2 separate regions of the Homo sapiens genome follow, and region 2 is linked to region 1. The links come from fine-mapping of genetic effects on gene expression. A gene starts in region 1. The other region holds a variant in brackets. All regions are shown on one strand. Distances are from middle to middle. Region 1 holds the start of GTF2F2 (general transcription factor IIF subunit 2). Region 2 overlaps GTF2F2 (general transcription factor IIF subunit 2).

Region 1 (15,559 bases):
TTGGCTGAAAAATGCAGACATTACGGTCCCCCATGCAGACAAGGACACCACACAGGGATGGCAAAATATGAGATGGAAGGACCATGGTCCCCAAACAGCTTTATATGCAGCACAGCCACCATGTCAGCTTAGTCGTTTACACACGAGGGAAGTGAATTATGTTGACAAAACTATGGCAAGAGCTTGAGCTATAGAAAAGGTCCTTAAACTGAACATTCCTTGACTCCACCCATTGATATTTATCTAATATTTTCACCTACCCCTGGATGTGAAAACTGTCCTCCCCTGATGCTTGTGTATTTGGGGAGGAAATCCATCAAAAAGGAAGCCCCTAGCTTTTGCCCTTAGTGGAATGTGGACACAATTGCTCATTGATATTCAGCACACATGGCTTCTCTGGCTTTGAAATCTGAACACTAGTGAAGATCTGTCTGTTTAATATGGTATTTTAGGGCTTATTCTTATTTGTGGTTTTTATTTGGGCACTTTGATCAAGTATTTCAGTGCTGTTTCCTAACTATAATTTTATTTAATATATAAAATATGATATACATGTTTTGGTAAATTACATATGAAAATAAATTGGATTTCAATACAGTAATGATGAATTGAATTTTCTCATGCTTTATTTAACACTTTATTCCCACAGCAATACCTAATGAGCAATTAAAGTGACTTACTGAGAGTGAAGGCTTCTTGCAGGTCACAGCAGCCATATGTCACATCAGACATAAGGCACTGAACAGAAGCAATTCAACGGAATCATGTCATCCATCAGGCAAAATACATGCAGAGTCTTGTCTGATCTCCCAGAAGGAGCAATGCTGTGTGTGTATGTTTTGTTTTGTTCTCTTGTTCTGAGTTATCACTTGGTAGATGGTCCTGTTCCTATTTTGCTATACAGCAAAGAATTACAAAGCCTTGTCAATTCTGCCTCCTAAAACTATCTCTGATATTTTCAAATTGATCCACTTCCTTTCATCTTCACTACCACTTCCCTAATCAAAACCACTATCCTTTTCCATTTGGATTAGTAAAATAGTGTCTCAACTAGTCTCTTGGTTTTCATTCTGGTCTCCTCCAATCCATTTTTTCCACAGCAACTACAGGGATCTTTTGGAAATGTAAATATTATTTTATATTCAAGCTTAAATTGGCTGGGTGCGGTGGCTCACGCCTGTAATTCCAGCACTTTGGGAGGCCGAGGCGGGCGGATCACGAGGTCAGGAAATCGAGACCATCCTGGCTAACATGGTGAAACCCCGTCTCTACTAAAAATACAAAAAATTAGCCGGGCCTGGTGGCGGGTGCCCTGTAGTCCCAGCTACTCGGGAGGTTGAGGCAGGAGAATGGCGTGAACCCGGGAGGGAGAGCTTGCAGTGAGCCAAGATAGCACCACTGCACTCTGACCTGGGCGAAAGAGCAAGACTCCATCTCAAAAAAAAAAAAAAAGCTTAAATTAACCTTCCAGTTGGCCAGGCATGGTGGCTCATGCCTGTAATCCCAGCACTTTGGGAGGCTGAGGCGGGTGGATCACAAGGTCAAAAGTTCGAGACCAGCCTGACCAACATGGTAAAACCCTGTCTCTACTGAAAATACAAAAAATTAGCCGGGTGTGGTGGCGTGTACCGGTAATCCCAGCTACTTAGGAGGCTGAGGCAGGAGAATCGCTTGAACCTGGGAGGCGGAGGTTGCAGTAAGCCAAGATCGCGCCACTGCACTCCAGCCTGGGCGACGGTGAGACTCCGTCTCAAAAAAAAAAAAAAAATTCTCCTTCCAGTTTACATTTGCTGTGTACAAGGTCTCCAAGGCCTTGCATGGTCTAGCTACTCTCTCCCTCTTCAGCCAATGGCACTGCCACAGTTTCACTATATCCTGCCCACTGGCATCCTCTCTCTCCCACAGACACCAACATACCAGGGGCTTCCCTCCTCAGGGTTTGCAGATGCTACTTCCTTTTCCTAAAATACTGCTGAAGAAATAAATAATATTAAACATAAAGGTAATAAACACTTAATACTCATCACTTCCTAATTATTTTCTGTATTTTATTATTATCCGTGCTCTTAAATTATATTTAATATATCTACCTAGTGAAAAATACTATACAATGTATTACAATACTATACAGCTTATTTATTTATTTATTGAAACTTAGTCTCGCTCTGTCACCCAGGCTGGGGTGCAGTGGCATGATCTTGGCTCACTGCAGCCTCCACCTTCTGGGTTCAAGTGATTCTTGTGCCTCAGCCTCCTGAGTAGCTGGTATTACAGGGGTGTACTATCACTCCCAGTTAATTTTTGTATTTTTAGTAGAGACGGGGTTTCTCCATTTTGGCAAGGCTGGTCTCAAACTCCTGGACTCAAGTGATCCACCCGCCTGGGTCTCCCAAAGTGCTGGGATTACAGGCGTGAGCCACTGCGCCTGGCCTATAGAGTTTATATACTATACAATGTACAGTGCCTCTCTTCCAAATTTGCCTTCAGTGATCTCTTCTTGGCAGCTTGAAATCAGCTATTGCAGAAATACTTGCACCATGGAAATTGGCAAACACTACAAATCAGGGCTTTCCTGGGGGTAGGGGAGTTTAGGGAGCCCAGCTGTTAAACACTTGCCAGTATACTGCTGCCTATAATAAAACTTTTGTGTTTCCTTTCAATTATTTATATAATTGCAATATATATAACTGCAATATAATTAATGCAGTTACAAAATAATTTCCACATCATAATGCTAAATTCTTTTAATATGTTTTCTCGTTTAGTCACATAATAACTCTACAAAGTGAGTATAGTAATTCCATTATATAAGCAAGGAAACAGGTGCAGAGAGATTAACATAATTAGGCTGGTACGCAGCAGAGGTATCACTTGGAAATATGTTTGACTGGCCAGGCACAGTGGCTCACGCCTGTAATCCCAGCACTTTGGGAGGCAGAGGTGGGCAGATCACCTGAGGTCAGGAGTTTGAGACCAGCCTGGCCAACATGGTAAAATTCCATCCCTACTAAAAATACAAGTTAGCCGGGCATGGTGGTGCATGCCTGTAGTTCCAGCTATTTCAGAGGCTGAGGCATGAGAATTGCTGGAACCTGGGAGGTGGAGGTTGCAATAAGCCAAGATAGTGCCACTACACTCCAGCCAGGGTGATAGAGCAAGACTCTGTCTCAAAAAAAAAAAAAAAAAAATAGTAAAAAGCTTGACTCCAAAGCTCATGCTCTCTCTCTATACTAAACAATATGGAAACTATTTTAGGAAGTATTTCTTTTTGTTTGTGTGTAACTGGGGAAACAAGGGATCTCCCAGGAATTTGGGCATTCTATGAAGGAGGGAACTGTTAGGGTTGAAGGGAAAGGCAGGGAGAATTCAGAGACGTTTTATAGCCTTGGTGTCATAACGAAGCAAAATTATCTACCTACTACATCACTGATGTCAGGGAAATTGAATGAATTACCACAATGCTGTATTCATTTGTAATTTTTGAATGACAATGTTTATGTTAGTAACCAATAGGTAATGAGTCTGGTCTATTAAGAAAGACCTGGTGGTAGCATTTTTTGCCTATATGAACTCTCCTGGAGGTAATACTTTTTCTTGCTAGAATGTTTCTGAGTAAGTGTGAACAAAGAAAATCTCTGGCCTGAAGAGATCAGGCCTGTGTATGATAGACAAGGACAAAATCTGAAAGTGAACTCAGCTATCTGTTAAAGTCATTCTAATTCCCTCAACTCACTTGTAACATCTCGCCTAATGGCTTTGCTGCTTATTCTCTAATAGCTACCTGATAGAATTGTGGTGTTCTGAATTAACAAGGCATGAGGGAATTCTAGCTGTAAGGCTTTCTGGTAAATTTTTTCACGTGTCTCAGACTTTGGAAACTGGCCCAGTTCTAATGAACTATATTGATTAGAAAAATATCGATTAGAATTCTATCGATTAGAACTCTATCATTTAGAACAATGATTCTCAGATTTTGGTGTGCCTAAGAAACACTCTGGGAGCTTGCTAAAAGTGTCAATTTCTAGACTCACATCCAGAAAGTCTAATTTTGTTTGCCTGGATTGGGGCTCAGGTGTCTTCATTTTAAAACACATTTCCCCCAGGTAATTCTAATGCAACTTGTACAGGAACCAGAGGCTGAGAACACTCATCTAGACTGAAGCATGTTTTGTGGTGGGTGTGGTGTTAGGGGTTTTTCTTGCTGCAGCTAGTCTGGAAGACACACAAAAAAGAACGTAGTTCTGCCTATTAAGCAGGTTGGGGCTGGGCATGGTAGCTCATGCCTGTAATCCCAGCATTTTGGGAGGCTGAGGTGGGTGGATTGCTTGAGCCCAGGAGTTCAAGAGCAGCCTGGGCAACATGGTGAAACCCCGTCTCTACAAAAAATACAAAAATTAGCTGGGTGTGGTAGTGTGCACCTGTAGTTCCAGCTACTTGGAAGGCTGAGGTGGGAGGATAGCTTGAGCCCGAAAGGTCAAGCTGTAGTGAGCTGTGATCATGTCATTGCACATTCCAGCCTGGGTGATAGAGCAAGACTCCGCCTAAAAACAAAAACAAAAACAAAAACAAAGCAGCAAAGAAGGTTGGGTGGCCTTGAGGTCTGACCTAGAATCTAAGCCCTAGATAAAGATGGAGGTTCAAGTTGGCCTAAGCACTACCAGACTTTTTGGAAAAATTGCAGCCAGCAATGAGTTCTTGGGCCCTCCTTCCTAGAATTGCATTTGCGCCTTAAAAATTTTGGTAACAACTTGACTAGTTAATCATCTGAGGGAGTAAAAAATTTTGGTGTTACCTTCTCTGGGGCACTGACTTCTGCATCCTATGCTCTGTGAGCCCCATCCTGGGATATGGTCTCAGCTCTTGGATGTTGATATGTTTAATGACATATAGGGCTATATTGAGGAAAAATAATACCTACTCTGGCAAATTGTTATAAGGATTAAATGGGATAATACAGAAAATAACTAGCTGAGGATCTGGCATATAATGAGTCCTTAGGAAGGTGAGGGATCTGCCTGTAGTATCTATCCACCTTAAGGGTCTCCACAGTAAATCTGTGAATTTGGTTCATAGGGGCCATGCCCTCCTTTTCTATCAGGGTTCTGTAAACATCCCTCTTCAAGCTAGAAGGGGTTTGAAAAGGACAGACAGGAGAAGCTTGCTCTTTGTTCAACAGCGTACGAGGAAGAGGTGCTCAATACGTTGTTTTTTTCTTTCTTCTATGTATCATTTTAAAATCTCCACTTTTCCGTTCTTCGCTAGCCCTTTCATCAGCCATTTTTTTTCTCTCTCAATCTCTGTGTACACACACATACACACATACCCACACCACGTACACATTTTAAGGCCTCCCATGACCCAGAGACCAAAGCCAGGGTTCCAATCTTTAAAGTCCATTCCTGGGGTGCTCTAGACTTTGCTTCTCTTCTCCCATGGTCTCATATTTCAATTTATTCCTTCTCCTTGATTAAAGTTTAGAGCAGTTCCCTTAATCTGCTTACTCTTTATATGTTTTAAAAAGGCCCTTTTCCAAGTTGTTGCACAAGAAGAAACCTTCATTTTCTGCTTAAAAAAATTTTTTTTTGTTTTTCTTTTTTTTTTAGAGATAGGGTTCTTCCTATGTTGACCAGGCTGGTCTCGAACTCCTAGCCTCAAGTGATCTTCCCATCTCGGTCTCCCAAAGTGTTGGGATTACAGGTGTGAGCCACTGCGCCTGGCCAAAAAAATTTTGTTTTTAGTATTTATTTTTTAGAGACAGGACCTTGCTCTGTCACCCAGGCTGGAGTGCATGGCACGATCATGACTTACTGTAGCCTTGAACTCCTGGGCAGACACAATCCTCCCACCTCAGTCTCCCAAAGTTAGGGTTACAGGGTTGAGCCACTGAGCCTAGCCTGAAACTTTCATCTTCAACACACTCCTGGTCTCTCCCATCTTTCCTATTAGTTTTCCTAGCTAAAAGCAGAGTTCTGACAGCTTTTCCTGGCCCTATGCTGAACACACATAAAATTTCCTCAATTTTGTGCAAGGCTCTGATGTGTGATTCAATAAATTACTTGCCATTCTTAACAATACCTTACTGTTTGTTTCTCTTCAGCGAATGTTCTTTCACCCAAAGCCTACTGAAACCTGACAATGTGTTAAACACTGTGCTAGACATTGTGGATATAAAATGAATAAAGCACTATTTTTTATTTGTCAATTATACCTCAATAAAGCTCTTTCCGCCTAGGAGGAGTTCATTGTCTGGAAAGCAAAGGCAGATATGTAAACATATATATTATAGTTCAGAGTGCTAAGTATCACACTGTGATGTGAAGAAAAACTAATTTCTTCTGGGGAAGTTGATAAAAGATCTCATAGGAAGTGACATTTTCATTGGTCTTGAACCATAAGTAGGAGTTTGCCAACCAGAGCACAGGGGTGAGAGTGAGGGCAGGGGTAAAATAGGGCTTCCAAGGGAAGGGAATCCAGTGTGCAGAGGCTCTGAAATGACCGACGAAGATTCTGACGTGTTTAGGGAAGTCTGCTGGGTTTGATGTGGTTTGGTGCATGGCGGAGTGATGGTGGGAGGTGCAAAGAGATGAAATTGAGAGGGCCCAGTTGAAGCAGGAGGATTGAACTTTATTCTAGAGGCAATAAGAGAAAGAGAAAACTGTTTAAGCAGGGGAGGAAACGATCAGGTTTGTCTCTTACTTGTTCGTTTCGTTACAGACTTCCGGGTTTTGGAAACTGAGGTGCTCCGCTTGCTTCATCAGAACAGCTCGGGTAGCCTCTGAGCTGAAACACGGCTTTTTTTTTTCCAGGTCTAGAAACGGCATGTTTTCAATATACCCAAGGCTACTAAGTTTGATCCCAGTGCCCATTTGTGCTAATGACGTTGGCCAGGGACGCCAATTTACTACCCTGACCCTGTCCTTCAAATATTGTCTCTCTCTCCTTGGCTAGGGTTGGACATGTTCTGACACCTTTCGTCTCTTTGAACCCCATTTTTCCGTTCTGATAATCTTTTTCTTCAGTTATGCTGACCATGTCTTTAAATACATTGCTAACGTTTTAGCTCATCCCACCCTACGTTTTAATCCCTCAGATGCAGACATCGCGGACAGCCACGCCCACTCAAGAAATTTCCGAAACAGAAAGTTTGTCTGCAACAGCGCGCCGTACTGACGTAGCAGTGCGCAGGCGCAGTCCCGGCTCCTGGCGGCGTGTTCCTCTTTTCCTCGGTTCCCAGTGTTCTGGCAGGTAAGGAACGCCGGCTCTTCGCCTCTCAGCGCGGCTTGTCCTTTGTTCCGGACGCCCGCTCCTCAGCCCTGCGGCTCCTGGGGTCGCTGCTGCATCCCGCACGCCTCCACCGGCTGCAGACCCATGGCCGAGCGCGGGGAACTCGACTTGACCGGCGCCAAACAGAACACAGGAGTGTGGCTAGTCAAGGTAATGTTCGCGAGTCTCCCACTTGCGCTCCTCCTAACACAAGTATAGTTTAAGTAACTTGAGCCTATCCCGCTCCGTGCGCCTCTTAAAGTTCTTTTACGGCTATCTCGTTAGAGCTTCACACATTTTGAGAGGCAGGAGTCATTGTTGTATCTGTTTGCAGACGAGGAATTAGTTTAGGGACGCAAAGTGTCTTTCAGCCAGTTACTACTCTGAATCTGCCTGGACTAGATCTCTTTCTCACGGCTTTCCTGGAATCTTGTCTTGGTGTCCCCAGATTTGGACGGTGCATTTTATCCCAGACTGAAGAATTCCTTGTATCTTCCCTTGGTGAAACTGGTTTTAGCCATGAGCCTGCGTGAGGTAGTTGAATGTCTACTTTCTGTACAGTTTTCTCGGCCAGAAAGTAGGACTGGTCCCTGCCTACTCTTAAAAGTGTTCTCTTAGGTTGATGGTCCTTAATGAAGCTCTCAAAAGAGGCGAGAGAGCCCCAAACTCACAGAAGGAGAGGTCATTGGACTGGAGTATTCTTTTAGAGCACATTTGGGTCTCGTGAAACTGGCCGTCAATAAACGTTTTATGTGAAGACAGCAATTTTGGTTAGCTCACAGTAAGCACTATTTGTGCTTTATTGTTTCATATTGGGGAGTGTTTTCTCCTAGGGGAGTTTCATAATACTTAAGCATATTCAAAATGTGATCCTGAAAGTCGTTGAAACTTAAAATGTAAGGACTTTTGGTTTCTTAATGCTTTAACTGTTTTATCACATGGCTGAGTTCTCGTCAATTAAATCTAAGAGGTCTTTCTTGTCGGCCTTCCTAAAACAGCCCCCTTGTGATCATTTGCTAACACGACAGATGTGTATTACATTCTTCAAAGCACTTTTCACAGTGTAGAGTGATTTTGTGTTCATATGTTCAAAGTTGGTTACCTCTGTCTTTCCAACACACAGAATCACATTCCATGAGAACAGGATCTTTGCCTGTCATACCCAGAATAGTGTTTGGCGCATGGTAATTACTCAACAAATAGATGATGAATAAATGCATGACCTCTCATTCTTCAGCCCTCGCCTTAGTCTGTGGCACTCATTTGACTTATTTCCAAACTCAGTGTGACTTAAAAGGATGGATTAAATAGGCATTTCTCTCTCCAGCAGCATGTTACTTGGGGGGAGAGTCACTAAGGAGGAGATTGCCCTTACGGACTGAAGGAAAAAGCTTGAAAAAATGGTGTGACTTGAGATGGTGCCATTGTCCTAGGAGCATGGTAAATGCTCAATGTTTGTCTTACAGGATTTGGATGGGTGGACACAGTGTATACCATGGGGAATGGAACAGAAATGCAAGACTCAAAATATATAATCAGCATGGCGTGTTGTGGAAAACAGAGAGAACCTAGAGCAGAAGATCTGTGTAGATGAAGATGGGGACCATATACTCAGATTGTCATATCATGAAACGGAGATATTCTAACTTTAGTTTACAAGGAAGTAACGAACTTTTTGGAGGATTTGAGTGAGGTAGAGATGCCAGATATTTATTCAGGAAAAAAAAAAATGTTTGGCAGTGTGCAGTACGAATTAGAGGGGAGGGTAACCAGAGTCACAATTAGAAAATTATCACAGGATCGGGCTGGGCATGGTGGCTCACGCCTGTAATCTCAGCACTTTGGGAGGCCGAGGTGGGTGGATCATGAGGTCAAGAGTTCGAGACCAGCCTGGCCAATATGGTGAAACCCCATCTCTACTAAAAATACAAAAATCAGCCAGTCATGGTGGTGTGCGCCTGTAGTCCCAGCTACTTGGGAGGCTGAGGCAGAAGAATCACTTGAAACCGGGAGACGGAGGTTGCAGTGAGCCGAGATTGCTCCGTTGCACTCCAGCCTGGGCAACAGAGCAAAAATTCCTTCTCAAAAAAATAAATAAATTAAAAAAAAGTGTAATTTGTTGCTTAGAAAGTGTATCTTCATTCTCATCTAATCAGAATTTGAATTGAAGTACATATTGATTTCAAGTTTTTTCTCCTTACATTAATTTTCCTATTAAAAATAATACCTTGAGTTCTGATCTTTGTTGCTAAATAATGTTTCTTCCTAGGATATCTCACGGTTTATAGATCATCTTGTACATATTTAATTCCATCACTAGACAGGTATAGAACTGTGTAAATACAGTAAGAACTATACATACAAGATCTCTGAGAGTTTTGAGCGGGAAAAAAATTAGTGCTTCACCAGAACTGGGAAGACATCATAAAGAAGGTGACGTTTAAGAAAAGCCTATTTGGAGGTTGCAGTGAGTCAAGATTGTGCCACTGCATGCACTCCTGCCTGGGCGACAGAGTGACATCCTGTCTCAAAAAAAAAAAATGGATGTGAGTGTGATCTGTCTGGGACATCTGTCACCCCATTGATTACTAGGGTTGATTTGGCTAATCTGGCTGGCTAGGCGGGTGTCTCCTTCCTCCCACACTGCTCCATGTATGTCCCTCCCGAAGCTGCACGCTTGACCAAAGAGGATGACCATCCGGATAGAGGAGGACTGGTCTTCAGTCAAGGGTATATGTATGGTTGTACTCCCCTGCTAGAACCTCCAAAGAAGCTTTCAAGAAGAGCTTATGGCAGGCCGGGTGCAGTGGCTGATGTCTGTAATCCCAGCACTTTGGGAGGACGAGGTGGGCGAATTGCTTGAGCCCAGGAATTTGAGACCAGCCTGGGCAATATAGCAAAACCCTTTATCTACAAAAACTATAAAAAGTTAGCTGGGCGTGGTGGTGTACGCTTGTAGTCCCAGCTACTTGAGAGGCTGAGGTGGGAGGATCACTTGAGCCTAGGAGGTTGAGGCTGCAGTGAGCTGAGATCACACCCCTTGTACTCCAGGCTGGGCTACAGAGTGAAACCCTATCTAAAAAGAAAAAAAAAAAAACAACCAAAACCTACGGGCAGGACTGGGGATAAATAGTGTGTTTAGGGAAAAACAAATATAGTAGTAGATTGTTTACCAAAATAACAAAATATCCAGGACCTGTACTGTTCTGGCCTAATGAAGTGCTATTTCTGGAATTTTGAATTTTTTTTTTTTTTTTTTTGGCTGAGCACAGGGGACTTTATTGATGGCACATGACAAGGCAGGGCTCCCTAGGCCCCTCCCTCTTCAGGGGGTCTGCATGGAAGCTGTGAGGAGGGGAGAGTCTTAGTGTGGTTGGGGACTGAGTATGGCAGGGACTCCCCAGCATTGAGGGTCTCTCTCTTCCTCTTGTTCTGTCACTGGGGCTGGTGGTCCAGGGGTCTTACTCCTTAGAGGCCATGTGGGCCATGAGGTCCCCCACCCTGTTGCTGTAGCCAAATTCATTGTCTTACCAGGAAATGAACTTGACAAAGTGGTCGTTGAGGGCAATGCCAGCCCCAGCATCTAAGGTGGCGCGATCTCGGCTCACTGCAAGCTCCACCTCGTGGGTTCAAGCGATTCTCCTGCCTCAGCCTCCCGAGTAGCTGGGACTATAGGTGCCTGCTACCACGCCCGGCTAATTTTTTGTATTTTTAGTAGAGACGGGGTTTCACCGTGTTAGCCAGGATGGTCTCGATCTCCTGACCTTGTGATCCACCCGCCTCTGCCTCCCAAAGTGCTGGGATTACAGGCGTGAGCCACTGCACCTGGCCTCCCCACTGGCCTTTTTAAAAAATTATTTTTGCGGCCAGGCATGGTGGCTCATGCCTGTAATCGCAGCACTTTGGGAGGCCGAGGCGGGTGGATCACCTGAGGTTGGGAGTTGGAGACCAGCCTGACCACCATGCCCAGCTAATTTTTGTATTTTTAGTAGAGATGGGGTTTATTTTGTTTGTTTGTTTGTTTTTGTTTTTGAGATGGAGTCTCACCCGGTCACCCAGGCTGGTGTGCAATGGCACAATCTCAGCGCACTGTAACCTTTGCCTCCTGGGTTCAAGCTATTCTCCTGCCTCAGCCTCCCGAATAGCTGGGATTACAGGTGTGTGCCACCACACCCACCTAATTTTTTGTATCTTTAGTAGAGATGGGGTTTCACCATGTTGGCCAGGATGGTCTTGAACAGCTGACCTCGTGATCTGCCTGCCTTGGCCTCCCAAAGTGCTGGGATTACAGGCATGAGCCACTGTGCCCAGCCAAGACAGGGTTTCACCATGTTGGCCAAGGTGGTCTTGAACTCCTGATTTCAAGTGATCCACCCACCTTGGCCTCCCAAAGTGCTGGGATTATAGATGTGAGCCACCCTTCCCGGCTAGCTTTCATTTTTTCACAGACAGGCAAGCGCTTGGACATTGGTGGCCAAAGAGAAAGTTATATACAAGGGAGAGATGAAACTGGAATGGGTGATACCCTAAAGCCTTGCAGATAGTAGGAGAAAAAGGAACTTAACATTTCTTGTGTAGCGAGTATTTTGCAAAGCAAACCGGTAAAGTAGGTATTAATTACCTGTATTTTTCAGATGATAAAATTTAAGGTTAGGGAGGTTAATTATCTTGCCTAAGCATGGAAATAGTGATTCAAATTTGTTAGGCTAAAAGCTTTGCCATAGAAATTTTTTTTCCCCTTTGCGTCTCTCTGTTTTTTTTTGTTTTTGTTTTTGTTTTTGTTTTTTTGAGACGGAGTGTCGCTCTTTTGCCAGGCTGGAGTGCAGTGGCGCAATCTTGGCTCACTGCAACCTCCACCTTCCAGGTTCAAGCGATTCTCCTGCCTCAGCCTCCCGAGTAGCTGGGGCTACAGGCGCGGGCCACCACACCCAGCTAATTTTTGTATTTTTAGTAGAGACGGGGTTTCACTGTGTTGGCCAGGATGGTCTCAATCTCTTGACCTCGTTCGTGATCTGCCCGTCTCGGCCTTCCAAAGTACTGGGATTACCGGTGTGAGCCACTGTGCCCAGCCCCCTTTGTGTCTCTTTAATGGGTTATCTCCCTAGAGATTCAGAGGTGAGGTGGGGACTTCATTTTTATGTCTTTGGTCTTGTCAGTTCTGTATCTTGAAGTTCAAGGAAACATGGGAATAAATGCTGCATGTCATAGATTGGGTTCCCTGAGCAGCTGATTTTGAGATGGAGACAGGGATTTATTAGTGAGTACTCTTGGGATCAGCATGTATGGAAGGAAAAGGATTTAAGCAAGATTGGGTAGAGCATGTAAGGCAGTCTCAGTGAAAAGCCAGGATGATTCCACAGGAGCCCTCCAGAGCTGTCCTCCTGTCCCAGCCAGTCAGTGGATATGGTTTGCCCCAGTAAGTGGGCGTGACCTTGAGCAAGGGGTCTTTCTTTAGTGGAGGCAATTTCAAAGAGGCCTAATAGCTGAGGGCTGTCTGCTGGCCACACTCTCAGCAGCTGTGGGAATAATGCCCTCAGTGCTGAAGGGGGAATCTGGGTGTCACATCATGATGTCCACTTCAGTGCTTTTAATTTTCTGGGAGAAACAGGGCTTTAGAGGCTAGCAGTTGGGGAACTAGATATTTGATGAAGCAAAGTTGGCAAAGAAGCACCTTGGCTTCAAAGGGAAGAACGACTTTTTTTTTTTTTTTTTTTTTTTTGAGATGGAGTTTCGTTCTGTTGCCCAGTCTGGAGTGCAATGGTGTGATCTTGGCTCACTGCAAGCTCCGCCTCCCGGCTTCAAGCGATTCTCCTGCCTCAGCCTCCTGAGTAGCTGGGATTACAGGCGTGCACCACGACTCCTGGCTAATTTTTGTATTTTTAGTAGAGACGGGGTTTCACCATGTTAGCCAGGATGGTCTCAAACTCCTGACCTCGTGATCCCCCTGCCTTGGCCTCCCAAACTGCTGGGATTACAGGCGTAAGCCACTGTGCCCAGCGACAAGAACCACTTTCTTATGCTGCCCAGTTTGAGTGAATGGGTGGGCAGATTGATTCATCCCACAAGCTTTCAGTGATTGCTAGGCTCTAAGTATGTTACAGTGAACAAAACGGACATGGTATATATACTGTGTAAACTACGACTTATAGCCCAGTATAGGAGACAGACATCAGTCAAATATTGGTCTTAACGAAAACAATTATTTTCAGAGAAGGACACTGAAGCAAGGAATATTGTTTCTGTGCATGTGAATAGCAAGGGACTTGTCCTGGTCTAGGAAGTCAAGGGAGGTTTCCTTGAGGAAATAATGCTGTAGTGAGTTATTTTCTGTCACTTTCTCTGGTATTGGGAAATCTAAGCAACCATACCCTGTTGTACTTATTACCTTGTCTCCATCTGATTTTCAGTAATGAGTGAGATAGTGGAAATAACACAGATACATCGTAAGTGATATGTTGACAGTGGTGTTTTGGAGCCTTGAAACCATATATACTGTCATTTTTTTCTTCCTCTCCCTCCCTCTTTTGAGACTTAATAGGCCGGGACTTCTGGGAAGCCAATTTCTGTAAGTTCGTGGTGTAGAGAGTTATATATAATTAATGTGCTATTATTATTATTTTTTATTGCAAGGGTGTAGTATTTTAGGAACCTTTGAATTAAATAAGCTGGTGGGCTTACCTGGGAATCTACAGTTTTATTATAATAATGAAGACAGTGCAATATGAGCTGCAAACTTGTTTTTGTCCATTAACTTATGGAGCACAATCTGCTTTTTTTTTTGGTCTTTCTTTTTGAGACAGGGTCTCACTCTGTCTCCCAGGCTGGAGTGAAGTGCTGTGAATTCGGCTCACTGCAACCTCTGCCTCCTGGGCTGCAGTGATCCTCCTGCCTCAGCCTCCTGAGTAGCTGGGACTATAGGCATGTGTCACCACGCCCAACTAATTTTTTTTTTTTTTTTTGTAGAGACAGGGTTTCACCATGTTGCCCAGGCTGATCTCAAATTCCTGGACTCAAGCAGTCTACCCACGTTGGCCTTCCAAAGTGCTAGAGTGTTGGGATTATGGCATGAGCCACCACCCCTGGCCTTGTTTTTTTTTGGAGACGGAATCTTGCTCTTGTCGCCCAGGCTGGGCGTGCAGTAGCACGATCTTGGCTCACTACAACCTCCGCCTCCTGGGTTCAAGTGATTCTCCTGTCTCAGTCTCCCGAGTAGCTGGGATTACAGGCGCCTGCCACCACGCCCAGCTAATTTTTGTATTTTTGGTAGAGACGGGGTTTCGCCATGTTGGCCAGGGTGGACTCGAACTCCTGACCTTGTGATCTGCCCGCCTCAGCCTCCCAAAGTGCTAGGATTACAGGCATGAGCCACTGTGCCTGGCACCCCGGCCTTTTTTTTTTTTTTTTTTTTTTTTTTTTTTTCTTTTTTTTTGAGACGGGTCTTGCTCTGTCACCCAGGCCGGAGTGCAGTGGCGCGATCTCGACTCACTGCAAGCTCTGCCTCCCGGATTCACGCCATTCTTCTGCCTCAGCCTCCCGAGTAGCTGAGACTACAGGTGCCCGCCACCATGCCCGGCTAATTTTTTGTATTTTTAGTAGAGATGGGGTTTCACCATGTTAGCTAGGATGGTCTTGATCTCCTGACCTCGTGATCCGCCTGCCTCAGCCTTCCAAAGTGCTGGGATTACAGGTGTGAGCCACTGTGCCCGGCCTCCCCCCTGGCCTTTTTAAAAAATTATTTTTGCGGCCGGGCACAGTGGCTCACGCCTGTAATTGCAGCACTTTGGGAGGCCGAGGCGGGCAGATCACGAGGTCAGGAGTTCGAGACCAGCCTGACCAATATGGTGAAACCCCATCTCTACTAAAAATACAAAAATTAGCTGGGCATGGTGGCGGGCGTCTATAATCCCAACTACTCGGGAGGCTGAGGCAAGAGAATCACTTGCACCTGGGGGGCGGAGGTTGCAGTGAGCCAAGATCATGCCATTGCACTCCAGCCTGGGTGACACAGTGAGACTCCGTCTCAAAAAAATAAAATTTATTTTATTTTATTTTATTTTTTGAGAAAGAGTCTCGCTCTGTCACCCAGGCTGGAGTGCAGTGGCATGTGATCATGACTCACTGTAGCCTCCAACTCCTGGGCTCAAACGATCCTTCTGCCTCAACCTCCCAAGTACCTTGGATCACAAGTGTGCACTAATATGCCTAGATAATTTTTAAATTTTTTGTAGAGATGGGGTCCCCGTATGTTGCCCAGGGTGGTCTCGAACTCCTGGCTCAAGTGATCCTCCCTCTTCAG
Region 2 (16,516 bases), 130 kb after region 1:
CCCGTCTCTACTAAAAATACAAAAAAATTAGCCTGGCGTGGTGGCGGGCGCCTGTAGTCCCAGCTACTTGGGAAGATGAGGCAGGAGAATGGTGTGAACCCGGGAGGCGGAGCTTGCAGTGAGCCGAGATAAGCGCCACTGCACTCCAGCCTGGGCGACAGATCAAGACTCTGTCTCAAAAAAAAAAAAAAAAAGTTAAGCTTCTTGGCTGGGCACTGCGGCTCACGCCTGTAATCCCAGCTCTTTGGGAGGCTAAGGCGGGCAGATCACTTGAGGACAGGAGTTCGAGACCAGCCTGACCAACATTGCAAAACCCTGTCTCTACTAAAAATACAAAAAATAAAATAAAAATCAGCCAGGTGTGGTGGTGCATGCCTGTAATCCCAAGAATCGCTTTAACCTGGGAAGCAGAGGTTGCAGTGAGCTGGTATCACGCCACTGCACTCCAGCCTGGGAGACAGAGAGAGACTGTCTCAAATTAAATTAAGCTTCCTGAATATAAGCTATTCTGTTAGACAGATACCTGGTTTTTTTGTTTGTTTGTTTTGTTTTTGAGATGGAGTCTCTGTCACCCAGGCTGGAGTGCAGTGGCCGGATCTCAGCTCACTGCAACCTCCGCCTCCTGGCTTCAAGCAATTCTCCTGCCTCAGCCTCCCAAGTAGCTGGGAGTACAGGTGTGTGCCACCACACCCAGCTAATTTTTTGTATTTTCAATAGAGACAGGGTTTCACCGAGTTGGCCAGGATGGTCTCGATCTGACCTCATGATCCACCTGCCTCAGCTTCCCAAAGTGCTAGGGTTACAGGCATGAGCCACTGTGCCCGGCCACCTGTATCCTGTATTTTATTTTTAGTGTTTTTGATGTTATAACTCAGGCAAATAATTTAGGGACTACTTTCAAGCTTCACCAACTTGAATTTCCAAGAATACCATTCTGAAGTTACCTAAAATTAAAATTGCAGTTTTTGTTGTTGTTGTTGTTTGTCTGTTCATTTGTTTTTGAGATGGAATCTCGCTCTGTTGCCCAGGCATGAGTGCAGTGGAGACATCTCAGCTCACCACAACCTCTACCTTCTGGGTTCAAGCAATTCTCCTGCCTCAGCCTCCTGAGTAGGTGTGATTACAGGCGTGCATCACCACACCTGGCTAATTTTTGTATTTTTAATAGAAACGGGGTTTCACCATGTTGGCCAGGCTGGTCTCGAACTCCTGACCTCATGATCTGCCCACCTCAGCCTCCCAAAGTGCTGAGATTACAGGCGTGAGCCACCGTGCCTGGCCTGATTTTTTTAAATAAATGGAGTTTTATTTCATTAGAATGAATACTAGTTCAAGCTTGACTAAATTTGTTACTTGATACTTAATAGTCTTACATTGTGACAAATAGATATGCGTGATTTATGACTAGAATAGCAATTATTTTATAGATGTACTGTATGTTTCCAAGCACTTTCTCTATGTCTATGGGGAACACCAGAAGGCATGGTTAGTCCTGGCATTTGAAGAATATATATTTATATTCTGAATTTGCACCAAGTTTTTTTTGTGTTTTTTTGTTTTGTTTTGTTTTTTGTTTTTTTGTTTTTGTTTTTGTGTGTTTTGTTTTTTTGGTTTTTGTTTTTTGTTTTTGAGACGGAGTTTCGCTCTTGTTGCCCAGACTGGAGTGCAATGGCGCGATCTCAGCTCACTGCAACCTCTGCCTCCTGGGTTCAAGCAATTTTCCTGCCTCAGCCTCCTGAGTAGCTGGGATTACAGGCGCCTGCCACCATGCCCGGCTGATTTTTTTGTATTTTTAGTAGAGACTGGGTTTCGCCATGTTGGGCAAGCTGGTCTTGAACTCCTGACCTCAGGTGATCCACCTGTCTCTGCCTCCCAAAGTGCTGGGATTACAGGCGTGAGCCACCACTCCCAGCCAGCACCAAGTATTTTTTTAATGGTTTACAAAACAAAGTAAAATGTAGCCTGGCTGTATCTAAGTGATCAGCCATTATTTTTCTATTTGTTTCCTGAAAACAACACTGTATTTTTAAATTTTCTGAAAAAGTGGAGACTCATTTTTTAAAATGGTCAGGGTAGCCTTTTAGCTTGCTCCCAAGTCAGCCTAATACCTCTGTGTAGTTTGTTTGGAAATATGTGGTGCTTTACGAACCACATATTTCCAAATTATATTATTTTGTACAAACCTAGATAAACCTTACCTTGACTTTGAAAGCATATCAAGGTCAGTAATGTTTAATTTAGTACATTGTTCAGTGATGAAATGGAGTTGCCAGTTGTTCTTGTCACTTCATGAGATAGTGTTAAATGAATTATTTAGTGTTAAGGACCCTGCTAAATTATTTTAAACGATTCAAAGCGAGTTAAAGTATTTTAAGATTTAGTTCTTTGTTATATTTTCAGTTCATACATTAACCTTTTTAGTTTTGAATCATAAGTTGTCCTCTTTTAATTAAAACCCTTGTGGTTGCCTTTTAAATGTATGATAGAACAGTTAAATTTTTAAAATGAGTTTATTTTTAAAAAAAAAATCAGTGTTTTCCTTTATGTAAAAGGTTAAATGCTTTGAGGATAAAAACTGCATGACACTGTATGAGTGATGAAATTGGCTTTTAGAATTGTAGAATTAAAATTGAAAGGAAAGTATGCTGCATAAACCTGAGTCTGGATGCAGTGGCTACAAATAAATTCAAGTGTAAGAGTGTGACCAGAATAAGCTACCGTTTATAAAGAAGCACTTCACTAAACAAACTGAAACCCTGAGGAATTTTCAAATTGTGAAGTAATGGGAACAATCATTTAATATGGAAGGAAGGAGCTAGTGCATGCCTCCTTCCTTGGATGTCTCATAAGATCAAATCGTGGAGATGACTGAAACAGGGAAGATAATTTAGCGGCAACATAACAGATTACCATTTAGAGAGGCCAAACCCCTGAGAGCTGATTGCATTAGAGGAGGATGGGGGGCCAAGATTAGGACACAGGTGTGTTCAGAAACAGGCTGACACTTACTTGTGTTTCCCACCCACTCCCATCCCCCACCAAGTTAACACATTTAGCTGTCCCGACACTTTGTAAACATTCCTATATCTGTCTTCAATCTTTTTTCTCTCTCTAAAGGTTTATCTCTTAGAAGCTTTGACATAACTTTCCTTGGAGGAATCATTTCCACCTAATCTTTTTGCCTTATCTCTTTTTTTTTTTTTTTTTTTTTTTGAGACAGTCTCTCTCTGTCACCCAGGCTGGAGTGCAGTGACACGATGTTGGCTCACTGCATCCTCCACCTTCTGGGTTCAAGCGATTCTCGAGCCTCAGCCTCCTGACTAGCTGGGATTGCAGGTATGCACTACCATGCCCAGTTCATTTTTGTATTGTTAATAGAGACAGGGTTTCACCATGTTGCCCAGGCTGGTCTTGAACTCCTGACCTCAAGTAATCTGCCTGCCTCCACCTCCCAAATTACAGGTGTGAGCCACTACACCCAGCCTGCCTTATTTCTTATAAGCATGAGCAGCTCTGCTCCAGTTTACTCTCAAAATGCACACCTTGGGATTAATATTTTCTTTTTATCAGTATGCAGTCAGTTGTCCTACCATCCCTCCATCACCCTTGTTCATCTTCAGTACTGCAGTTAATTATAGTATTAAATGCTTGTCTTCCACTAGAGCAAGTCTTTACTGCTATGTCTCCAACCTCTAACCCAGTGCCTGGCAGAAGTGGGTACCCAGTAAACACTTGCTGGATAATTGACAGCAAGAGGCTCCTTCCAGAGTCTGGCTGTGGCACAGCTGCAGCCAGAGGCAGATACAGGAGAATGGTAAGGAGAACTGGAGAGATACGCAGGGACTAGATCCCAAAGAGTCTTAAAGTCCTATGAAGGAACTTGTGCTGCACCCCGAGAATAGTAAGAGGCCATCGAAGAATCATTAATCTAAATCCATCCTTGGGTTGCACATCTCCCTTCTAGACTCTAGCTAGTTGATTTCTCAGTCTTAGCAAGAAAATTTAATCCTTGTTCATAGAAACTCTGTGTGGCACATGAAAAGCAAAGTATAATTGTAAGTATTATTTATGGTTACATATCCAGTAAGTTTCTAAAGACACTTCCAGAGAACTTTTTGTACTTTATAAAGTAAATCATCTTGTGTATTTAAAGGATAAGCATGGATTTATATGTAACTGGAATAATTTAAATATTTACATTTCCATACAGAAATGAGTATACTGAATTTGGGGATCTTGGTAAAAACAAAACCTATGGCATTTTTAGATTTCAAATTGAAAAGGCAATTGGTAAATATCTTATATCTTCTCAGCAATTTGATAGTATATACCTGAAAATAAGCAGAAGTAAATAGAGAATTATCTTCATCCAAGGAATTAAATAATAGGAATGTTATACAGACACCTTTTATACTTAATTCTGCTTTTGAAGGAATTTAAAATGGAAATTGTTTTTAATTTCTATTTTATTGAACCAAAGAATTTAAAGTCCCATTCAAATAAAATAATACATAATGTTAAACTTGTATTATTTTTTAATAGCCAGCATTTTTGTGGTTTTCAAATGAACCATCCAAGGAATTATAGTATTTCTTCTCTTTTTAAGAAAGTGTACTTCTTCAGGTTATAAAAGTAGTAAATACTTATTGCAGAACATTTAGAAAACAAACTTAAAATGCATCCAGTCTGATCTCTTCCTTCCCATCTTTCATGTTAGTTTCACCATTTAAAAAAACTGCCTTTTTTTTTTAATTAAAGGCAATTTTCTAACATCGTTTTCAATTTTTTTGCTGTAACCATTGCATCTCACTGCTTCCTATTGGATTCATTTTCCTTCTTACTGAAATAAATTCTTGAGTAGTTTCTCAGTGAGGATCTATAAATAATAAACATAAGCTTTTGTCCAAAAATGCTTATGTTTTACACTTACTCTTCAATTGTAATCTAACTAGATATGTTAGGCAATTTTCTTAAAAAACTGCAATCTTATATTTTGATATCTTGCTGATGAGTTTAAAAGGTACAGTGATAACTTTTGCATCATTAAAAATAGTTGGCTTAGAAAGCTGTACTTTTCCTTCCTTAAAACAGTTTTTTAAATTTACTGTGCTGATATACCAAGTGAATTAATTTTCTAAATAAGTAAATGATTATAAGCCTTGCTATACTTAATATAAAACAAAATATCCTAAGATAGCTACTTAAATATACATGTACTAGTCAGCTATTGTTTTATAATATACTATACATGGTGGCATATATTTTCAAAAGCAGTGTTTTGAGTTATATTTTATTTTCTGAGACATGGTCTCTCTCTGTTGCCCAGGCTGGAGTGCAGTGGCACAGTCACAGCTCACTGTGGCCTCGACCTCCCAGGCTCAAGTGATCCTACCACCTCAGCCTCCTGAGTAACTAGGACTACAGGCACTGTGCCTGGCTAATTTTTTTTTTTCTTAATTTTTTGTAGAGACAGGATCAGTTTAGATGGTGTCCTGCAGTAGTTCTAGAGCAGTGCTGTCTAATAGAGGTTTCTGTGATGATAGAAATGTTCTCTCTCTGTGCTGTTCAGTAAACCTTGAGTGTTGATGTATTCTCTTTTTATTTACCTTTATCTTTTATCAGCTGAGTAGACATTTTGAATTAATAACTTGATTGATTTTAGACCATGTAATTTAAGATGATTTATTTTTACATGAAGATTTTTTCCCCCAGAAATTTAAGGCTGATTAGCTTCTTGGTTTTAGTGGTTAAGATTTGCCTATATAATAAGCGGGTGAAAAGTACATTGTGGCATTATAATGAGTTAGTTTGTATATTTAGCTTGTGTACTGGTTTCTGCATTATAGTCACGTATATTCAGTGCATTTTTAAAGTATTAAAGCTAGTGTATCCTCTGAGGTTACCTTTTTATATATTAGTTTTCATTGAATAAGAATTATAGAAATAATAACTCTTCATATTTCACTCTGCTAAACAAGAGTGTTAATAATGCCTTATATTTTTTTTCAGATTGCAAATAGAAGAGTCTTCCAAACCAGTGAGGCTATCACAACAGCTGGACAAAGTTGTAACAACCAATTACAAACCTGTTGCTAATCATCAATACAATGTAAGTCTTCTGCTTGTCTCTTTTCATTCTTTTATATCTTCATTCTTTTCTGTATCATAGAGTCTTAGGTTTCCAAAGAACCTGAGAATTTACACACCTTGCCATCAGGTGCTTGAATTACAGTACCTGATCTGGACTTAGTAAGGAATATGACAATTTGCTAAAAGTACAGAAAAGATGTTCACTCTACATTGCAAGTTATATCATGGCAAAAAGAAGGCAACCACTGTTTAAAGTACCCTTGATAAATTTTTACAAAGAAGTAAAACACTTCAATTCTCAATGTTGCAATGTTGCTGATGTTTTAAATTACAATGTACTAACTAAATATTAGTTTTACTATTTTTAAAAATTATTCTATACCTTTGTGATGAACCATAAGAAAGTTTTTAATGTGTTAAAAAATTTTAAAGGTCATGGAACAGCAGTAATTTTTCTCATTGATTATTAAGATCACTTTGCCTGATTTCAGCTTTCACAGGCATTTTAATGGTCTCATACTACCATGCAAAGTGAGGACCATCTGTACAGTAGTACTCCCTTGTCCACAATTTTAAAACTTTATGCAGTTTCAGTGACCCACAGTCAACTACAGTCAAAAATATTGAATGGAAAATTCCAGATGTAAACAATTCATAAGTTGTAAGTTGTGCAACCTTCTGAGTAGTATGATGAAACCTAGCACCATCTTGCTCCATCCCATCCATGATGTGAGTCATTCCTTTGTCCAGTATATCCACATTGTATATGCTACCCACCCATTAGTCACTTAGTAGCCCTCTTGGTTAACAGATCTATTGACACATGATAAAAAGAAAGAAGAGGCTGGGCGCGGTGGCTCACGCCTGTAATCCCAGCACTTTGGGAGGCCGAGGCAGGCGGTTCACAAGGTCAGGAGATCGAGACCATCCTGGCTAACACAGTGAACCCCGTCTCTACTAAAAATACAAAAATTAGTCGGGC[A/G]TGGCGGTGTGTGCCTGTAGTCCCAGCTGCTGGGGAGGCTGAGGCAGGAGAATGGGAGGCGGAGCTTGCAGTGAGCCGAGATCACGCCACTGCACTGCAGCCTGAGTGACAGAGTGACAGAGCGAGACTCCGTCTCAAAAAAAAAAAAAAAAAGAAAGAAGAAGAGTGAGTACAGAACACCAAGATATTTTGAGAGAGTGAGAGAGAGAGAGACCACATTCACAGACTGTTATTACAGTATATTGTTAGGGTTATTCTATTTTATTATGGGTTATTTTTGTTAATCTCTTACTGTGCCTAATTTATAAATTGAACTTTATCAGAGATATGTATGTATAGGAAAAACCATAATATATAGAGTTTGGTACTATCCACAATTTCAGGCACCAAGTGGGGCAGGGAGGTGTCTTGCAACATATCTCCTGCCAATAAGGGGAAAGTATTGTATATTTATATTTCAAGACTTTTTTATTGTTGTGTATCTTATATGTACTATATGTATTATACAATATACACATTTATTGCATACATATTATGTATACTTTGTGCCAGGTATTGGTCTGAGTGCTTCGTAAGTAATGACACTTAATCTTCATACCAACCCTATGAAGAAACTACAACAGATAAGGTAACAGGCAGAGAGACTGGCTTACCTGAGGTGGTGCAGCCAGTAATTTATCAGTCCAGGTGTTGAACTTAGGCAGTCTAGCTTAGGAGCCATACTGTTAACCACTGTGTATGTTGCCGCTGGTGATTAGCAGTTGCTAAAAGGGCTAAGGGTTTTGGGTTTTGAAATATCTGTAATGTAATAAGTGTGATGGTTTCCTGAAAATAAAATACCTAAGTTAAGTCAAATAGCAATTAACAGTTGGAATTTTGTATCCCACTTTGTTGTTTAAGATTACCTTTGATACTGAGTTTAGGAAGAAAATTTTCTTTAAGACTAGCCTTGGCAGAGTGCGGTGGCTCACGCCTGTAATCCCAGCACTTTGGGAGGCCAAGGCAGGTGGATCACCTGAGGTCAGGAGTTCAAGACCAGCCTGGCCAACATGGTGAAACCCCATCTCTACTAAAAATACAAAAATTAGCCAGGAGTGGTGGCAGGCACCTGTAATTCCAGCCACTCGGGAGGTGAGGCAGGAGAATCGCCTGAACCCAGGAGGCAGAAGTTGCAGTGAGCCGAGATCACACCATTGCACTCCAGCCTGGGGGACAAGAGTGAGACTTTGTCTCAAAAAAAAAAAAAAAAAAAAAAAAGACTAGCCTTTAGTATCAACATTTATTAAGTGACACAGGATAGCATCTACCAAACTACTACTTTATGATATTTGAATGGTTATTTTATATGAAAGTAGCAAATGCCACTAGGGCTAAGTAGATATCTTAAATGAGTGGAACAATGAAATTTAAGAAAGTCAGTGTTAGAGACTGTGTGAACTGGAGTGCACATGACCCATATAAATACATTCACATTTTGAAATTGCTACACTATGTGAGTTAAACAAACCAGGTAAAAGTTCAACTGCATTCAGCCAAGCTTTCATTTTATAGCCTCTGGTTATGCTTTAGGAGGAAAATAAACTAAAGGACAGGTAAGGTTTCAGATGATCCAGAAGAGGTATTTTTCTGTTGTTTTCTGACTTAGATAAATAGATTAAAGTCCACATCTTTGTTCTCTTCCATTGTAGTCTTTTCTACTGTTGGATGGGAATACACACAGTTTTCTGAGAGCTACGTGTAAATAGAGATTCTATTCTACTTTGTAAAACAGTATAGATCTTAGTTGTTTTTGCCTTTCTTCCTCATTGGTGTGCTGCTTCTGTAGCTCCTGACTCACCTTTTTTATCCTTTTATGGGCCAGGCTTCTCTGTGATTTCTACCCTTGTGTATATTTTTATTACAGTGGGTACAAGAAAGACTGCACTTTCATAGGCTGTAAAGAGTTGTTACCTTTCTAGAGGGAAGTTTGGTAATTTATGTCAAATGCACTATAAAAGGATATATCCTTTGACCTAGCAGTTTTGTGTCTAGGAATTTATTATAGTGAGACCAGTGCTCAATGATATATATACAATAATGCTTCTCTCTATTATTTAAGATAGGAAAAGATTGGAAACAAGTGTCCCAAATTGGGGATTCATTAAATAAATATTTTAAGTCATTATTTTTGGATGGTAGGATCTACGTGATTTTATCCTAATTTTCTTTTTTATAAAATCTTCTCCAATTGTTGAAATTGTCACAGTGAGCACGTATTGCCTGAATTGTTGGTAAGCAATAAAGTTATGTTGGGAAGGGGAAGATTGGAAAGGAAAGAAAGCCAGGGAAGAAAGCCATAATAGTACCTTACTGATTGTCTAAGATTTACCTTCTTTAAACAAGTACTTTTTAAATATCTGCTTCGTGTCTGAGATACATACCCCTGGTGAATAAAGTAAGTACAAACATGTTATATTCTGAACTCCTTAGTATATAAAGCTATAGCACCCTCTATAAAGATAATTAACATTAAGTGACATTTTAGTTCAAGATATCAACCTTTGTTAAGGTTGTCATAGTGAAAATGAGTCATTATAGTAATGAATCTTTGATTAAGATTTTTACATCCAAACAAAGATTGACTATAATCTACCACATTGCATTTGAATGTTTAATCATTATTTCTTTTGGGAGTAAACCAGGATAGGCACCTGCATAGCTTTAAAAAACATATTCAGTATTGTAGTGTAATACCAACTATAGAAAGAGTATAACATTTTTGTTATTTATTAGAAGAGGACATTGACTTTTAAAAGACTGAGAAACATAAACGAACACAGGTCAGCAAGAATGATTTAGAGGAAGCATAATAAAGACTTTTAATAAAAAATTTTAACTCGATATAATGTTGAAATGTTTTGAAAGTCTTGCCAGATAAAGTTATATAAACATGAAGCTCAGTGTTTCATTCTAACAGTTGAGCTTCTTTGAATGCAATTTTCAGAATAAAAATTCAAAAAAAATTTGTACAAAAAAGTGAAAGAGGGACTGGGAAATTGCATATGTATTTGAAAAACAATGTTCCTACATTTGGTCAGAAAGAAACTACCTTGCATTTACCCACAGTTTTTTCACCCACCTATGGCAAATAGATGAATTTACCTGTATATATGTAAAGAAAATATCCAATTTTGTTCTTGGAGCTATTCTAAGAATTAAATTCAGATTTATCTTTTTAGTTCACAAACTATCTGGGTATAATGTCTGTCATACTTGCCATTCAGAAACCATCTACTGGGCCAAAAAGAATTATATGATTATTTTTATCTCTTAGAATACTCCATTGAAATCGCACCCCTGAAAACCATCTTCTTACTAGGATATGACATGTCAGGTTTTTTTTCCCTAAGTGGCATTTCCTGTACCTTAAATCTTCATTGAGTGTCTGAAACTTGAATCAGTTCATGTAGGTCAGCATTTTCCACAGTAAATTTTTTGTAACATTAACTAGGTGAGATGGTCACATAAAAAGGATTCTGTGTTTAAAAAACTTGTAGTTTCTGATTATATCCTCCTCTTAAATTGACACTTCACTTTAATATACTCAAGATTAGTAAGCTTTAGGAATTTGTTTAATCCTGCACTTACAAACATTTGAACATCAAATTTCCCCCCATTGTTTGAAGTAGTGAAAACAGACATTGGGAAATAATGGAGATGTCAAAGTATGGTTTACAAGAGGGCCCACTGGGTGAGGGGGAAAATTATTATATTTATATTATTATAAAACTTACATGTATCTTGTTTGGCACCTAGTAAAGGAAAGAAACTGAGCTTTAGAAATACTATGTAGATTGACCCTGGCATCTTTTTGCAGCTCCTGTGCTAGTCGGTCGTTTTTCAGCAGAAGAGCGGAAATGGGACAGGACAGAGGGGTTGAGCGTTGTGCCTTCATGTTTTCATTTGCTTTCAGCTTTTTAGCATTGGTGCTCAATTCAGAGATTTACAGATTATAGTATCTATTTTTAACTAAACTCAGTCTCAACAAATGATTTCTGCAGAGAAACTGTCAATTAGAGATAATACTAATAAACCAAGCATATGTGAACAAGAAAGTGAAAAACTGAACTTCTCTTGCTTCTAAAAATGGTTTATCAGTCAATCTTTGAGGTGACAAACAGTGATGATGTAATCAGATCTGAAAAGAACTTGGCCCTTCCAAAAAGGAAATTATCAGTATCATTTTAAATATGGCTTGTCATGCCCTGTCTTTAATGATGACTCAGTTAGTGTCTATGGTGGAATCAAAAACAACTCTAGATATTCCAAGCAGAAAAGAATGTAATGTAGGGAGTTAGTTACAAATGATTTAGGAATACCAAATGGATGGGCTGGAGTTGCAAAAGGAAGAAGAGATCAGGAAGCTGCTGCAGAGGTGCTCCTGCAATACAAAAAAAAAAAAAGAAGAAAAATCTCCCTCCCTCCCACTTTCATTCTCCTATTGGCAGAACCCCAGCTGGAAACCCGCTAGCAAGGGAATCTTGGAAATGTAGCCTGCAGACCTCTTGCCACCCCACCCTTACCACCAAGGCTAGAGTTGAAGACTTGTTGCAAAATAACTGGCAAAGTGGCCCTTGACCTTTGTGAGTGTTGTACCTTGTTATATTAGCTTAGCTATTGCTGATACAAAGCTATCACGGTGTTCAATGTATTTAAAAACTAAGCATACAGAACATGAATGCAAATCACTGTATTTTGAGAGCAAAACGAAAACGTATTTTGTAGTTTTGACAAAACTTACTCTTAAAATTATACTCTTTCATCCCTTTAAAATTTTTTATCTTGTGTATGCTTATATCTATTTATAAATACAGTAGTACGTTTGTCCAGTTTATAAAGATATATGCATAGCTCATGCTTTTAATTTTTTGCTCACAAAGGTGTATAATCAAAGTTATAGAGTCAGCTGATGCGTAAGGTTCTTTGCAACTCCCTCCAACTTTGAATCCAAGTAAGGGCGACTCTGTGTGTTCTGGTTGACTTTGTGAACATCGTATCTAGCCTATGTAAATTTCATAGCATTCTTTTATGTATTTCATGGCCTCTTATAAACTTTCTCATAAGGAATTCCTTTTCTTCTCATAAGGAATCATGTCCTCTGTTGTCTAGACATTTGTTTTCGGTGTTGCTGTATACTAGAATCACCTGGGAAGCTTTTAAAGAAGAAAAATAGGCCGGGTGCGGTGGCTCACACCTGTAATCCCAGCACTTTGGGAGGCCAAGGCAGGTGGATTACCTGAGGTCAGAAGTTCGAGACCAGCCTGACCAACCTGGTAAAACCCCGTCTCTACTAAAAGTACAAAATTAGCTGGGTATTGTGGCACATGCCTGTAATCCCAGCTACTTGGGAGGCTGAGGCAGGAGAATTGCTTGAACCCGGGAGGCGGAGGTTGCAGTGAGCCAAGGTCATGCCACTGCACTCCAGTCTGGGCAACAAGAGCGAAACTCCATCTCAAAAAAAACAAAACAAAACAGAAAAATACCCTCAGAAACTGATTTGGTTAATCTAATGGGGAGGCCAGCCATCTTAAGTTTTTAAGCTTCTTGGGTAATTCTAGTATGCAGCCACTGAACCAAAGAGATGAGAACTTTTTATAGTTCTGCCATCTCCTGTTGAGGGTGGGGTGTTCAGTAATGGTACTTAGAAGGAAACCTCTTTCTCGCAAACCTAGAACTTTTTTTTTTTTTTTTTTTTTTTTTTGTGAGACAGAGTCTCGCCCTGTTGCCCAGGCTGGAGTGCAGTGGCACAATCTCGGCTCACTGCAAGCTCCGCCTCCCGGATTCATGCCATTCTCCTGCCTCAGCCTCCCAAGTAGCTGGGACTACAGGCGCCCGCCACCACACCTGGCCAATGTGATCCACCCATCTCGGCCTCCCAAAGTGTTGGGATTATAGGCGTGAGCCACTGCGCCTGGCCAAACCTAGAACTTTTAAAAAGAATTAATATTTCTTTTCTTTGTTAGAATTTCTGCCCCACAGTTTGAAAAAATAAGTTTTCTCTCTCTCATTTTTTTTTTTCTTATTTCTGGTAAAAGCTCTTGGCCAGAAAGAACTCGAAAACCTTAACTGTGCTCAGATGGGTAAGAGAAAAAAAAGAAAAGCTTACTTAGTAAACTGGTTGTTGAGGTAAACCCCCAGGAACTAGAAAGGAAATTCATTTTTATGCATATATGCTCTGTTCCCTTCAGTGTGGCAGCCGACTGTGTTAGTCTGCAGAACTAAGATTTGGGGTTTGAGTGGTTGATCTTTTAAAGTTCTATGCATAAATTTGAATTTTCCTAAATAAAAAGGATGTTTGTAGGACTATATCATGAGGGCTTTTCAGTAATATTTGCCTGTTATAATACATAGTATAAGTATACTACATGCTTTGTCCATTTGAATTTGCACACAAAGGACTGACCAATTCTAAAGAAATAATTTCCTCCCAAGAGATAATGACACACTAGGCAGAAATAGAAGCATTAGTTGAGGGGAGGGGGAATAATATCTCATAAGGATTTAACATGCAGAACCATGATATTCAAAGCTGTCATGCTCACTTCAAAAGTTAAAAGGCTTTACAAAGACTGCCTTGACAAAACACAGTATTTCTGCAAACAATAATCTAGAAGTTTATAGATGTCTGTATTATAAATTTTAATTGGTAGTGGGTGGCATTTATAATTTTAGTCAGTGATTACAGCTTCAGTAATGATGGTTGAACATATATATACCAAATCCACAAAGGATTGTCAACATTTGGTTGCATTTTAGTCAAGAATAGGCTGGGCGTGGTGGTTCACACCTGTAATCCCAGCACTTTCGGAGGCTGAGGCGGGTGGATCACTTGAGTTTGAGACCAGCCTTGAGTTTGAGACCAGCCTGGGCAGTATAGCCAGACCTACCTCTTCAAAAAAATTTTAAAAATTGGCTGGGTATGGTGGCATGCCCCTGTAGTTCCTGGAGTTCGAGACCAGCCTGGCCAACGTGGTGAAACCCTGTCTCTAATAAAAATACAAAAATTAGCCAGGCATGGTTGCACACGCCTGTAATCTCAGCTATTCAAGAGGCTGAGGCAGGAGAATCACTTGAACACGGGAGACGGAGGCTGCAGTGAGGTGAGATTGCGCCACTGCACTCCAGCCTAAGCAACAGAGTGAGACCCCATCTCAAAAAAGAAAAGGTTTGGGGGCCGGGTGCAGTGGCTCAAGCCAGTAATCCCAGCACTTTGGGAAGCCGCAGTGGGCGGATCATGAGATCAGGAGATCAAGACCATCCTGGCTAACACGGTGAAACCCTTTCTTTACTGAAAATACAAAAAATTAGCTGGGTGTGGTGGCACGCGCCTGTAGTCCCAGCTACTCGGGAGGCTGAGGCAGGAGAATCACTTGAACCCGGGAGGCTGAGGTTGCAGTGAGCTGAGATAGCATCACTGTACTCCAGCCTGGGGGACAGAGCAAGACTCCATCTCAAAAAAAAAAAAAAAAAAAGAATAATTTGTGTTCTGTTGTGAAAATTAATTGTATATGATGGATTTTTTGGTAAAAATTTGTAACTGAAGACTAAAGTACTTTCTGAATTGACATTTATTTCTATATAGTCAGTTGCGCAGTGATCTGTGATCATTGGATAGAAGATTGGTAATTAAAATTCACACAATATAAAAGCTGTTTCTACTCCAGTCTTACTAAGAGTTGTAGTGGCTGCCAACAAGTTAGATATCTGACTGCTTTAATATCATTTCCTTACAGTGCCTGAGCTCCACTGAGAAACAAAATGCCCAAAAGGCAAGGAGCTAAAAAGAGAAGAAATAACATTATCTCAAAACTGTAATCTTCTCCTAAATAGAATAGTTCATATCATTGGTAGTTTATTTGTACAGTTAATTTTATTTGTAGTGTCAAGTTGTGAATATAGTATTAAGATTACCATTTCTGCACTGTTTAGTTTTAAAAAATTACCTCAGTGACCTTGGTTTTGTCCTAACTATAAGTTATTAATAACTTAATGGCCATGGAAATTATTTAAATCCCCTTCGATAATTACACATACACTGGAACTACTTATCTGATACCACAGAGCAGAATTTGGATTATGAGCCTGTCTTAGACATTATCAAAAAAAAAAATTTAACTGGCTGGGTGCAGTGGCTCATGCCTGTAATTCCAGCACTTTAGGATGTCAAGGTTAGAAGATCACTTGAAGCCAGGAGTTTGAGACCAACCTCGGCAGTATAGCCAGACCCTATCTCTTCAAAAAAATTTTAAAAATTGACTGGGTATGGTGTCATGCCCCTGTAGTTCCAGCTACTTGGGAGGCTGAGGCAGGAGAATAATTTGATCCCAGGAGGTTGAGACTGCGATGAGCTATGATCACACCACTGCACTCTAGTCTGGGCGACAGAGTGAGATCCCATCTCTAAAATTAGTTAACTAATTAAAACAATAATATTTTTGTAGTACAGTATTAGTTAAATCTTTAATTTATTTTTGAGACGGTGTCTCACTCCGTTGCCCAGGTTGGAGTGCATTGGTGCATTCTCAGCTCACTGCAGCCCCTGCCTCCTGGGCTCAAGTGATCCTCCCACCTCAGCCTCCCAAGGAGCTTGGACTACAGGTGAGTGCCACCACACCCAGCTAATTTTTGTAGAGGCTGGGTTTTGCCATGTTCCCCAGGCTGGTCTCGAACTCCTAAGCTCAAGCGATCCGCCCACCCCAGCCTCCCAAAGTGCTGAGATAACAGGTGTGAGCCACTGCGCCCGGCCTAATCTTTATTTTGTTATTTATTTATTTATTTATTGTCTTAGAGACAGAATCTCACTCTGTTGCCTAGGCTGGAGTGCATGAGTGGCATGATCATAGCTCACTGCAGCCTCAACTTCTTGGGCTCAAGTAATCCTCCTGCCTTAGCCTCCTGAGTGGCTGGGACTACAGGCTCGTTCATGGCTAATTTTGTAGAGATGGGTCTCACTTTATTGCCCAGACTGGTCTCAAACTCTTGGTCTCAAGTGATCCTCCCCCCTTGGCCTCCCAGAGCACTAGGATTACAGGTGTGAGCCACCATGTGTGGCCATAAATTTTGTTTTAAAACAATCTTCTATAAATTATCCCGTAGTTAAACAGTCCCTGAGGACATTAAAGAGATGTTCTGTTTTTATTTTTAAATAAATTTAAATAAATGTAGGATTAAATTTAAAGTACTTAAATTTCTCTAGTGAGGAATGTTTCTGTTTTGTTCTTGCTATCGTTATTTTGTATGTCTGGGTTTTCAGACTAAATTTTTTTTTTTTTTGAGACGGAGTCTCACTCTGTCACCCAGGCTAGAGTGCAGTGGCGCGATCTCGGCTCACTGCAAGCTCCGCCTCCCAAGGTTCACACCATTCTCCTGCCTCAGCCTCCCGAGTAGCTGAGACTTCAGGCGCCC

What was found. PIP is the estimated chance that this variant, and not a neighbour inherited with it, causes the effect.
Region 2: its variant is the best candidate, but not a certain one, in a credible set for the expression of GTF2F2 in whole blood (INTERVAL, PIP 0.78).

The regions. Positions count from the first base shown.
Region 1 is chr13:45,113,288-45,128,846 of GRCh38, forward strand. GTF2F2 (general transcription factor IIF subunit 2) reads left to right here and starts at 7,223. Exons shown (of 8, transcript NM_004128.3): 1 at 7,223-7,434. The coding sequence starts at 7,369. It also overlaps the pseudogene RN7SKP4. RefSeq lists enhancers at 6,853-7,496, 7,257-7,386, 7,497-8,138 and a silencer at 10,451-10,644.
Region 2 is chr13:45,246,862-45,263,377 of GRCh38, forward strand. GTF2F2 (general transcription factor IIF subunit 2) reads left to right here. Exons shown (of 8, transcript NM_004128.3): 6 at 6,010-6,109. Among named protein-coding and RNA genes, the nearest start is that of KCTD4, 54 kb to the left of the region's middle. The variant A/G (reference allele first, on the strand shown) is at 7,073.